2 separate regions of the Homo sapiens genome follow, and region 2 is linked to region 1. A link means that fine-mapping ties the variant in region 1 to the expression of a gene that starts in the linked region. Tissue or cell type: pancreas. Region 1 holds a variant in brackets; the other region holds the start of a gene. All regions are shown on one strand. Distances are between the middles of the regions.

Evidence for each region. PIP is the estimated chance that this variant, and not a neighbour inherited with it, causes the effect.
Region 2: it holds the start of MTUS1, and the variant in region 1 is fine-mapped to the expression of MTUS1 in pancreas (GTEx, PIP above 0.99).

Annotation. Positions count from the first base shown.
Region 1 is chr8:17,612,241-17,617,528 of GRCh38, forward strand. All of the region lies in intron 2 of PDGFRL (platelet derived growth factor receptor like), which reads left to right. Among named protein-coding and RNA genes, the nearest start is that of PDGFRL, 38 kb to the left of the region's middle. The variant T/C (reference allele first, on the strand shown) is at 2,089.
Region 2 is chr8:17,797,908-17,803,195 of GRCh38, forward strand. MTUS1 (microtubule associated scaffold protein 1) reads right to left here and starts at 3,187. Exons shown (of 15, transcript NM_001363059.2): 1 at 3,154-3,187. MTUS1-DT (MTUS1 divergent transcript) reads left to right here and starts at 3,435. Exons shown (of 3, transcript NR_186403.1): 1 at 3,435-3,835. RefSeq lists silencers at 3,301-3,420, 3,501-3,560, 3,601-3,790.

The DNA.
Region 1 (5,288 bases):
GAGCCCTTGTGCTTACGCATTTATGCAGTATCTGTTTCACACTTTATAAGCAGTTTTACTTGTTTTGCTTTTATTATAGCTTTTCTTTTCTTTTCTCTCTTCCCTCTTCCTTCTTCCTTCTCCTCTCTTCTCCTCTCTTTTCTTTTTTTGAGACAGTGTCTCACTCTGTTGCCCAGGCCATAGTGCAGTGGCATGATCTCAGCTCACTGCACCTCTGCCTCCCGGGTTCAAGCTATTCTCCTGCCTCAGCCTTCTGAGTAGCTGAGATTACAAGCACCTGCCACCATACCCGGGTAATTTTTGCATTTTTAGTAGATATGTGGTTTCACCATATTGGCCAGGCTGGTCTCAAACTCCTGACCTCAGGTGATCCACCTACCTCGGCCTCCCAAAGTGCTGGGATTACAGATGTGAGCCACCACACCTGGCCCAGTTTTTCTTTTCTTATTATAAAATAACACATACTTATTTGATCTAGAAACTTAAAAACTATAAATAAGCAAAAAGGAGAAAGATCACTGAAAACCCCAAGAAACGTGGTTAACACAGTAATGTTGAATCTTCTAGTTTTGTATTTAGTATAAAAAAGGTATCAAAATCTGCAAACTCTTTAATGACTAACTTTCCCCCTAATCTGTTGTGAATATTTTTTATGTGTAAAGTTATCAAAATATTCTATCTCTTTTATGATTAACTTTTCCCGTAATCTATTGTGAATATTTTTATGTGTAAAATTATCAAAATATTCAAACTCTTTCATGATTAACTTTGCACCTAATCTACCATGAATATTTTTTGTGAGTTATGGCTGTAATACTGTAGTAGGTTTAGCTAAATCTCTTGGGTCTCTCCATCTCTTAGATCATGCCCCATTTTTTACGATCACTGTCATTGCGGTAGCTAACATCTAGGTAGCAAGGATCTCTTCCTCTGGGTGGAATTGTTGGGCGTATTTTAAGGCCTTTGTTCCAGGTGGTTGGAGGGGATTTTCTGTTGGGAGGATCGCTGGTGTGTCAGGTATGGTTTTGGTTTGTGGTGTCAAGGGGATATACGCTTCTCATTTTCTCAGAGTCTAGAGAATATCTGAAGGAGGAAGAGGAGCTTTTCCTTTGTAAAGGACCTGGATATGCTGGACAGAGGGTCAAAAAGAATGATGACCCCAGCAGGTGACAGAGGGGAAATGAAAAGGGAAGGGGGACTTCGCAGTATGGCGGGCAGAGTCCAGGCAGTGCCAAGAATAGGACCTGCAGGGGTGAGAGTGATGCCGGCAGGGCTGGAGGGATGTAGCGTGTGCAGTCTCCCGTGAAGTAGTGGGGAAGTGCTTAGGGTGACTTCTTTTTCAATAATCCAGAGAAGCCCAGGCGCAGTGGCTCATGCCTGTAATCCCAGCACTTTGGGAGGCCGAGGCAGGTGGATTGCTCAAGCTCAGGAGTTCGATGCCAGCCTGGGCAACGTAGGAAGCCCCTGTCTCTACAGAAAAATGCTAAAATTAGCCAGGCATGGTAGTGTGCACTTGTAGTCCAAGCTACTCAGAAGGCTGAGGTGGGAGGATGGTGTGAACCCCACGGAGGTCACACCACTGCCCTCCAGCCTGGGTAACAGAGTGAGACCCCATCTCAAAAAAGAAAAGCTACCTTAAAAATAATAATAAGATAATAATACAGAGGAATCTGGCATAAGTGATTGCAGTAGAGAGACCTGAGCCACATTTCACAACGTAACTGGTTGTTGAGGTGGAAATATTGTATCACATTGCAAGGATTTTGAATAGTTCCTTGGATAGTATGCAAATGTGGAGATAGATGATAGATAGATAGTAGATGGGCAACAGACAGATTGACAGATGATAGATTGATAGATGATAGATCAGTAGATGATAGGCTGATAAATGATAGATTGATTCGTAATAGATAGATTGATAGATGATAGAGGAATAGAGCTATTCCAGCCTAATTTCTGATACAAGAACTATATTCACTTTGAAGTCCTTTAGTTTGCATATTTGTTTCCCTGAGATCATCATGCATATTTTTTCTTTCTTTTTTAAAGAAACATAAACAGTGACAGTTTCAGTATGTTTTACCCAGC[T/C]GTCTGTTTCCCAGGATCTGTACTCTGTTCATATGGCACGTTTCCTGCATATCATTCAGCCATTCTTCTCTGACACGTTCTGAGACGGAGACTTACAGGAAATACAGGCCCTGTGTAAACACTTGAAACACAGACAAGCAAATACCCACGAGTCTTTATCGCTCTTGATTCTTGGCACAGTTCCTTGCATGTGGTAGAGGCCTAACAGTTTTTCACATGAATGTAGAATAAGGAGGATATTTATGTTTTAATTTTGTAAACTTGTTTAGAGACAAGGTCTCCCTCTGTTGCCCAGGCTGGAGTGTAGTGGCACAATCCTAGGTCACTGCAGCCTCCAGCTCCCAGGCTCAAGTGATCATCCCACCTCAGCCTCCCAAGTAGCTGGGACTATAGGCTGGCATCGTGACATCCAGCTAATTTTTAACATTTTTGTAGAGATGGGGGTCTCTCTTTTTCCAACAGAGGCAGCACAGAGCGTTCAAAGCAGAAAATCTTTGTTTATCTACCTGAGGCACCCTGGGAAAGTTGTTTGAACTGAGCTTCAAATTCTTCTCTGGCAGCTCCAACACTTCCTGTGTAGCCTTGGGAAAGTTACCTAACCTCTCCAGCCTGTTTGTTCACCTGCCACGTGGGGTTAATAATAGCACTTATCTCTCAGGGCTTCATGAGGATCAAATGAGTCAAAATGGGTAAAGGGCTTACAGCATTGCTTAGCACATATTAAACACTGCTTAAGTTTCAGTTATTGTTATAAGTCTCATCATTGCCATCTCACGGGATTGAGAAAAAGTAAAGTGTCTCTTCCGTATTGCCAGTTATGAAGTCGATGCTTAATAACTGATGGGTGTCCCATTCTTGTTTCCTTTAATTAATTACCGGATGGTTTAGTGTTGACTTAATAGAAAACAGTGTACCGTTTCTACTATGGAATTTAAAATTCTGAGCTCATTTAACTGGATCTCTCATATTTTTGTTTGTGATTTGGGAGTGTGTGTGTGTGCATAGCTATACTTAGCAGATTTTACAAGCTGTTAGAGGTGCCATCACTCAGTCAAAATTGCTTCATTTCATTTCATTTCTGTAGGATGAAAATCCATGCCCTCTTAATTTATAAGTGTTTGTAACCTGAGTCTGTGTGACACTAGATTAGATGCTCTGCCACTCAATAGCTGAGTAACTTGGACAAGTTGCTTCTCTATGTTTCGGTGCCCTCAAGCAGTAAAAGGGGAAAAATAGTACCTCCAACTTAATGTAGCTGTGAGAACCAGGGGGACCATAATAATGACAATTTCTAAAGTGTTTCGAGTCTGGGTGTGGTGGCTCATGCCTGTAATCCCAGCACTTGGGGAGGCTGTGGTGGGAGATTGCTTGAGGCCAGGAATTCAAGACTAGCCTGGGCGACGCAGCAAGACCCTGTCTCTACAAAAAAATGTAAAAAAATTAGCCGGATGTGGTGGCACATGCCAGCTACTCAGGAGGCCAAGGTGGGAGGATCCCTTAAGCCTAGGAGTTTGAGGCTGTAGTGAGCTATGATTGCACCACTGTACTCAAAGCCTGGGCAAGAGAGCGAGACCCTATCTCTAAACGAATAAACAAGATGTATTGAGCACTTCTCTGTGGCAGATGCTGTTCTAAGTCCTGAACTTGTTTACGGAGCTTGGCAGCGTGCCTGCACTCAACAAGCATTAGCTATCATTATTGTTACTACAAGTCTGAAGAGTAGGTGAAGCCAGACTGTGGAAGACGAGCTGTAGCTAAGGACTCTGAAGGTCATGGTGGAGCTGGGATTTGAATCTGGTCAGTAGGGTTCCAAAGTCCATGATTTTATTTTATTATTGTTATTATTTATTTATTTATTTATTTATTTATTTATTTATTTATTTCTGAGAGGGAGCCTTGCTCTGTCACCAGGCCGGAGTGCAGTGCCGCAATCTCAGCTCACTGCAACCTCCGCCTCCCGGGTTCAAGCGATTGTCCTGCGTCAGCCTCCCCAGTAGCTGGGACTACAGGCATGCACCACCGCGCCCAGCTAATTTTTGTATTTTCAATAGAGATGCGGTTTCACCATGTTGGCCAGGATGGTCTCGATCTCTTGACGTCGTGATCCACCCACCTCGGCCTCCCAAAATGCTGGGATTACAGGCATGAACCACTTGCGCCTGGCCCAAGTTCATGATTTTATGCCTTTCACCACAGTCTTCAGCCAACTTGTCGTCCAGAATAACATCGCTTTGTTCTGCACAAACTTGCCTTTTTTCTTCTCTCTGGAGACCTCCTTCCCTGGGACTGCATGCCCTCGATTTGCGCATGTTGACATCCTTCCTTTGTACCAAGACCCTCTTGGCCTAGAGGCTCTTGCTGGTTACTCTCCTCGGAGTTCTCATGGCATGTTGTGTAGGAGAACTCGGGAGCAGGGACTTCTCTAGACATCATTGCATCCCTCCTGTCCTCTCCAGCACCTCCCATTTATTTTGTACTTACTAAGTATGTGTGGGTATAATACCAATGAATCATTATCTTGTAACCCAAGGCTCACCCTTGCCCTTGGCTTGCAGAGTCTTCACCGGGGCAGACAGGAAATGGACCCCACTACTATTAACTGGCCACTGCCCCAAGTAAGATGCACCGGTCCCTATATCTGAGGACTGTCAGCTCCCTCCTCTGTGCCATCTCATGACTTAGGCCACCCCCAGGAGAGAGCAGCCTGGGCTAAATACAGGAAGCTTCAGTCCTCCACTGATGGGAGCAAGACTCTGTGTGTGTTAAGGCCAGGGGAGCGTGTTGGAAGCCATGCACACACATACACATACACGGGGTCTTAAAATTTGAACACTTTCACTTTGAAACATGGACTTGGCCATCACTGAGATCTCTGTGGGTCAGGGCTAGAACTCCTAGTTTAGAAAGAAAAGGCCAGAGGCAAGCTGATGTGTTGGCGTGTTCAGAGCTGCTTCCTGTTAATGTGAATTCTGCTTCTCTTAGGACGCTTTTTCCTGGCATTTGGTCATGACACCTTCTTTTTGCTCCACTTAAACTCCCCATTCGCCACTTTCTCCATCCCTGGGGATGGTGTTCAGCGGTTACACAGAAAGGAAGGGTCTTTGATGAAGCATCTCTGTACAGACACTGGCTCTGAAGGGCTCAGGGAATCCTTGTCTCCCTTGCGTGACACGGACTCAGCCTGCAGAGGCCCTCGGTCA
Region 2 (5,288 bases), 190 kb after region 1:
ATATCAGGAAGACGTGTTCCCCCGCCCCCCCAAATAAATACTTTGCTGAGTAGCAGTATTGGAAATTAATCCAGGAAATTTTTTAACTACGTATGCAGTACATTTGTCTGGACATCAACAAGTCCGTATGAAACCACAATAATGACTATAAAAAGAAGAATCTGGCAAAATGATACTACAAATAGATTACTGACAATAAATGGAGTGTGAGCCTACTTTGTATAATCACAGAATAACAGATCTGAAAAACATTCAGTCTTAGGGATTTAAAACTTTCTGCTCTGATTTCAAAGGATGTTGTTCCTAATAGTATATACCAGGCCCAGTGGCTTCTCATCAACAAATGCAATTAGTTTTGCAACAGTCTCTAACCCAAGATATGGAAGTTCTTGCAATGAATTTGAAAAGATTCTAATTTAGAATTTGGGGAATTTTTTTTTTTTAAGATGGAGTTTTGCCCTGTTGCCCAGGCTGGAGTGCACTGGAGTGATCTCGGCTCACTGCAACCTCCACCTCCCGGGTTCAAGCGCTTCTCCTGCCTCAGCGTCCCAAGTAGCTGAGATTACAGATCCATGCCAACACAATTGACTAATTTTTTGTATCTTTAGTAGAGACGGGGTTTCACCATGTTGCCCAGGCTGGTCTCGAACCCCTGACCTCCTGATCCGCCCGCCTTGGCTTCCCAAAGTGCTGGGATTAGAGGCGTGAGCCACCGCACCCGGCTGGAAAATTTTTTTTAAATCTTCTACCACAGTCACATATAGTTCTGAAGCTACGATTTAGAAGTGTTAAAAATTCTGTTTTGAGAAAGTCAACAGATTTATCAACATTAAAGAAATTTGTGTATGTCAAAACTACTGTAAATATATAAAGCAAAGATAAAATGGGAAAAGTATCTGCAATATGAATGGCAAAGATTTACTATCAATCCATAAAAGGCTCTTATGAATTAATGGAAAAATACTAATATCCCAGGAGAAAAATCTGGCACTACATCAAATTTCAAAATGGAAAACAACTAGATTTCTTTGGTGTTCAAATCATCTGTAATCAAAGAAATTGAAGTTTAAATATAGAGAAAGCACTGTTCACCTATAAACCTGGGAAGAATTTTTTTTTTTTCCCTTTAAGGATGATTCTACATGTTGACAAGAATACGGTAACACCAGTATTCTCACAGAGAGCTGGTGGGAACATAATTTGGTTAAACATTTTTTGGAAAGCAAATGGTCAATATGTATGAGGAGATCTTCCAACCATCAACTGTATTTCAAGGGCACTAAGGATATTAACCCTGCACATAAAGTTTTAAAAACGTATTTGTTGCAAAAGTATATTTAGTAAGTGGAAATAAATGAAAACCAGTTTGATACATCTATGTAATGTAATATTAAGTAGCCACTAAGATTTCTGAAGATTTCATGACATGGAAAATTTTTCATGATACATTAATCAGGAAAAAACCTCCACGCAATAGTATATTTAGATAAACTATATAACTATAAAAAATTTTTCTATATATTAACAAGTATTTTCTTAAATATTAACTGTGATTATCTTTGCTGAAATTGCTTAACTCACTTTTCTCAATCTACCTATTTTTATACAGCAAGCACGGATTACTTTTGAAATCAAAACAAACAGGGTTAACAGAACAGGGCTATTAAGTAACAGGCTTTTTAAATGCTTGAGTGTAATAACTGCAGGTTAGTTTCCAAAAAATATAAGATATTATCTAGAATCTTATAATCCTATTATACTCCAAAATGTAACCTTGACTTATTGACATAATTAAAAGGTCTTGTTCCAAGCATGATTTTCTACCAAGCAGATTTACCAAGAATTATTTTCTCTTCATAAACCTGATTTTAAAAAGAACAGGTGAAAAAACGTGGTGCAAGTTACATAAATAACTACATATTATTTTAAACTAAATTCCACTTCTAAGGTTTTTTAGCTTTGGTTTTAAGGATAAGCATGTAGTTCTAATCTTTTCTTTGTATAGCTTTCCTAATGGAATATATTGCCTATGAAAAAAAAAAAATCTGTAACAGCACTTTCTACACTGTAAAGCACTGTACTAACAGGACATCACCATTTTAAGTTGTGTATCATTTCCTGCCCTAACCATCCCTGAAAAAGCAAACTGTCTACAGAATTGCAATTCCGTTTATGCAATTCCTTTTAAAGTTGTCCATGCACTGTTATCTTGTATATACCCTCCTTAAAGAGGTCACTGGTTCCCAGGAAGCAATGACTCTCTTTTTTAATCCCCTCCCTCCTGCATTGCCTCCCTTCCTCCTGAAATTCACTGGTAACACCCCTACTCCCACCCTCCAGCCCCAGCGCTGTGATTTAGTGATGATTGACTTTCGATCACCTGCACCTGGCAAAACTTGAAAGCTTCCACGCACCGTTTTGCCTAAGACTTTGGTTTCATTGAAACAAACAAAACACACTGGATTTCCTTTCTTAGAACACTGACTACTTCAAACAAACAGTATTTAACAGAGTATGTGTAACTACGCAGGCTAAATGAATTAACCTCTTCCTTCCTAGTCCCAAATTACTCCAAGTCAAAAATCAACAAACAACTTGGTAGAAAGGAGTACGTCTTCAAAAAAGAACAAAAACGTTCCTCAGTGAACACCTAAGTCCACTAAGCACTATAGAGTAGTCAATAAGGTCACCTTAATTAAGATGAGATTTTTCTAGAGCGTGAAAAAGTGCAAACAAGCTGCAGAAAGTAGCGAGGCGCCACGAGGGGTCTTTGGGACCTGCAGCAACCCTATTCCACCCGCTTTCTCGGCCCCGCTTGCTTCTGCTGAGAAGGGGCCCTGCGAGAAGGCTGGGACCGCCGGGCCCGGGTGGGCGGCGTAAGGAGTCCACAGTCAAGCCCCTCGGTCACTTTCAAGGTGACAGCGACGAGATCCGCATCCGTCCCTTCCGCAGGCTCTGCGCTGGCCCACGTGAGACCCGCCTCCGCTCCGCCGGCGCTGCCGCCCCCTTTAGCCCTCAGCTTCGGCCCCCAGGCCCCTGGAACGCCCCCTCCCCTCCCCGAGGACCGGTCCCGTCACCCTGGGCGGCGCGCTCGCCTGTCCCCTCCCCACCCCGGCCGCCGGGCAGCGGGAACAGATTCCAGCGCGCACTTACCCGCAGCTCCTTCAAGCGCTCCGGGAGCAAAGACGCAGAGGCGGGGAGGGCTGGCGCCCTTTGCACCACTGGCGGGGTCGCCGAGAACCCGCCCCGGAGGTCTCGGGGGCGGCGTCTGCACCTGGGGGCGCGCGGCGCGGCACCACCCCACGCCTGCGGCGGCTACCAGGCGGGACCCGGAGCCCCGGCCTCCCCGCCTCCCCGCCTCCGGGGCCGCCAGGGGGTGGAGCAGGGCGGGGAGTTCGGGAAACTTGTAAATAGCCGAACTCGGGCCTCCCGCCCCAACCCGGGGCGGCTCCTTCCGAAGGCTCCACTCCAGCGGCTCGCTGCGGGAGACCAAGGCCAGCCGCCGTCCCAGGGGACGGCCCTCGGGGAACCTGAATGACGTGCGAGGCCGTACCTCGGGGCGCTGGACTCCGCTCGGGCGCTCCCGCTCTCCGCTCCCGCTCTCGGGTCCCAATCCCGACGCTCCGCGCGCTCCCGGACTAAGTGCGGACGCGCCCCACGCCCCCCGGCGCCAGCCCGGGACAGCGCTGCACCTGTTGCCACGTGCGACGCGGCGCTCAGCGGCTGCCACTGCCGCCGGCGCACCTGGCTGCACCGCGCGTCCCGGGACCACGCTCGTCCCCGCAGGAGCCCGGGGCTCCGCCGCACCCAGCGCTAGGGCCCAGGCCGGGCCGCGGTAGGTGGGGGATCTGACTCCTGCTTGCCTCTGGCCACCTGCAGGCCGAGGGGCCTCGCACCGCGGGGCGTATAGAAGGTGGGAAGGTTGCAGAATTATCAGGGCGGAAGCTTGCAAGGAAGGAGTCGTGATTGTCTCTTAGAAGGGCTGATTCGCAGTCTGTATTATCTTCATGCTTCTAGCAAGTTTACTAGCAAGTGTGTATTAAAGGTTAAAGAAAGTAGCTTTCCAGCTATTAGAGCTTGAGATACAACGTGGAAAGGAGTCTAGAACCCCAGGGAGATAAACTAGGCTCGACCTACTTTTCTCTAAACACAAACACAGTCCTTGCTGTTTGCTAAACTGAGCAAATTTCATCGACAGCTGTCTTCTAGGTCCGTAAAATATTTTCTTCTATAAAGCATATTTTTAATAGAAAACTTGTCCGAAGATGCTATTCTGCCTGTGAGAGATGTCACATTGCTGAACCGTGAAATGTCAGACAACCTGAGAACAAAATTTTAATATTTCCTTTTTAATTACCTGGATTGTGGTTTGCTAAAAGCTTTTAAAGAGAAGTGAACTTTTTTGGAGAATAGACGTAAGGACTCTGTATTTCACAGTTTTCTATACCATGAATATTAGAATAACTGACAGATGTCTTGCCATTGATAGTTGTAAAGACTTTTCATATGTACAATGATCCATTATTTCCTGACTACAAAACCCAGGGGTATATAGGTCAGATTATCTCCATTATTCAAATGAGGAATTGAAGCTCAGAAAGGTCAAGTGACTAGCGCAAGGTCACACAGCCAGTGAGGGCAAGTGCAAACCCAGCCAGCCTAACTCCTAATCTTCTCTTTTAATTCCATTACATAATGACACCTCTCATTTGCTTCAGAAATCCCTGTTGTAAAGATAGATGCAACTAGCATGATCCGTGTTGTTAGGAAAGGCATGTGATTAATTTTAAATAGATATAGTATTTAACACCACCAGATGAGTCTCCCTCTGAAAAAGCACACAAAAACAAAACAAAACGCTGACATAGTTTCCGCAAGTCACGAGGCAATTATGCTAATTAGCAACAAGCCTCCATCCCTAAGCAGAATAGTTCTTGTGTGAAACATATCATTTAATCTTTATAACCCTGATGTGACCTAGATGATTTGGTCTAAACCCCACAATCCTATTGTGTGGCTTAGTTATATCTATAAATATAGAACCTGTTTTACTTCATTTTTGTGTCAGGTGGTTTGAAGGGGGGAAACATACAATGCTCTGCTAAGTAATTAGAGCTACTTACGCAGGCATTGGGGAATCTGAAACTTAGCTTCTAATTGTCTCCACATAAAAACAGAAGTTAACTTCTAGGGACATCTTCAGGGACTCCTCAAGGCAAATATTCATGAAATGGGGCCTATTGGCTTTTCTTTTCATCTTGGTTCTGGGCATGTTGCCATGTTCCTGA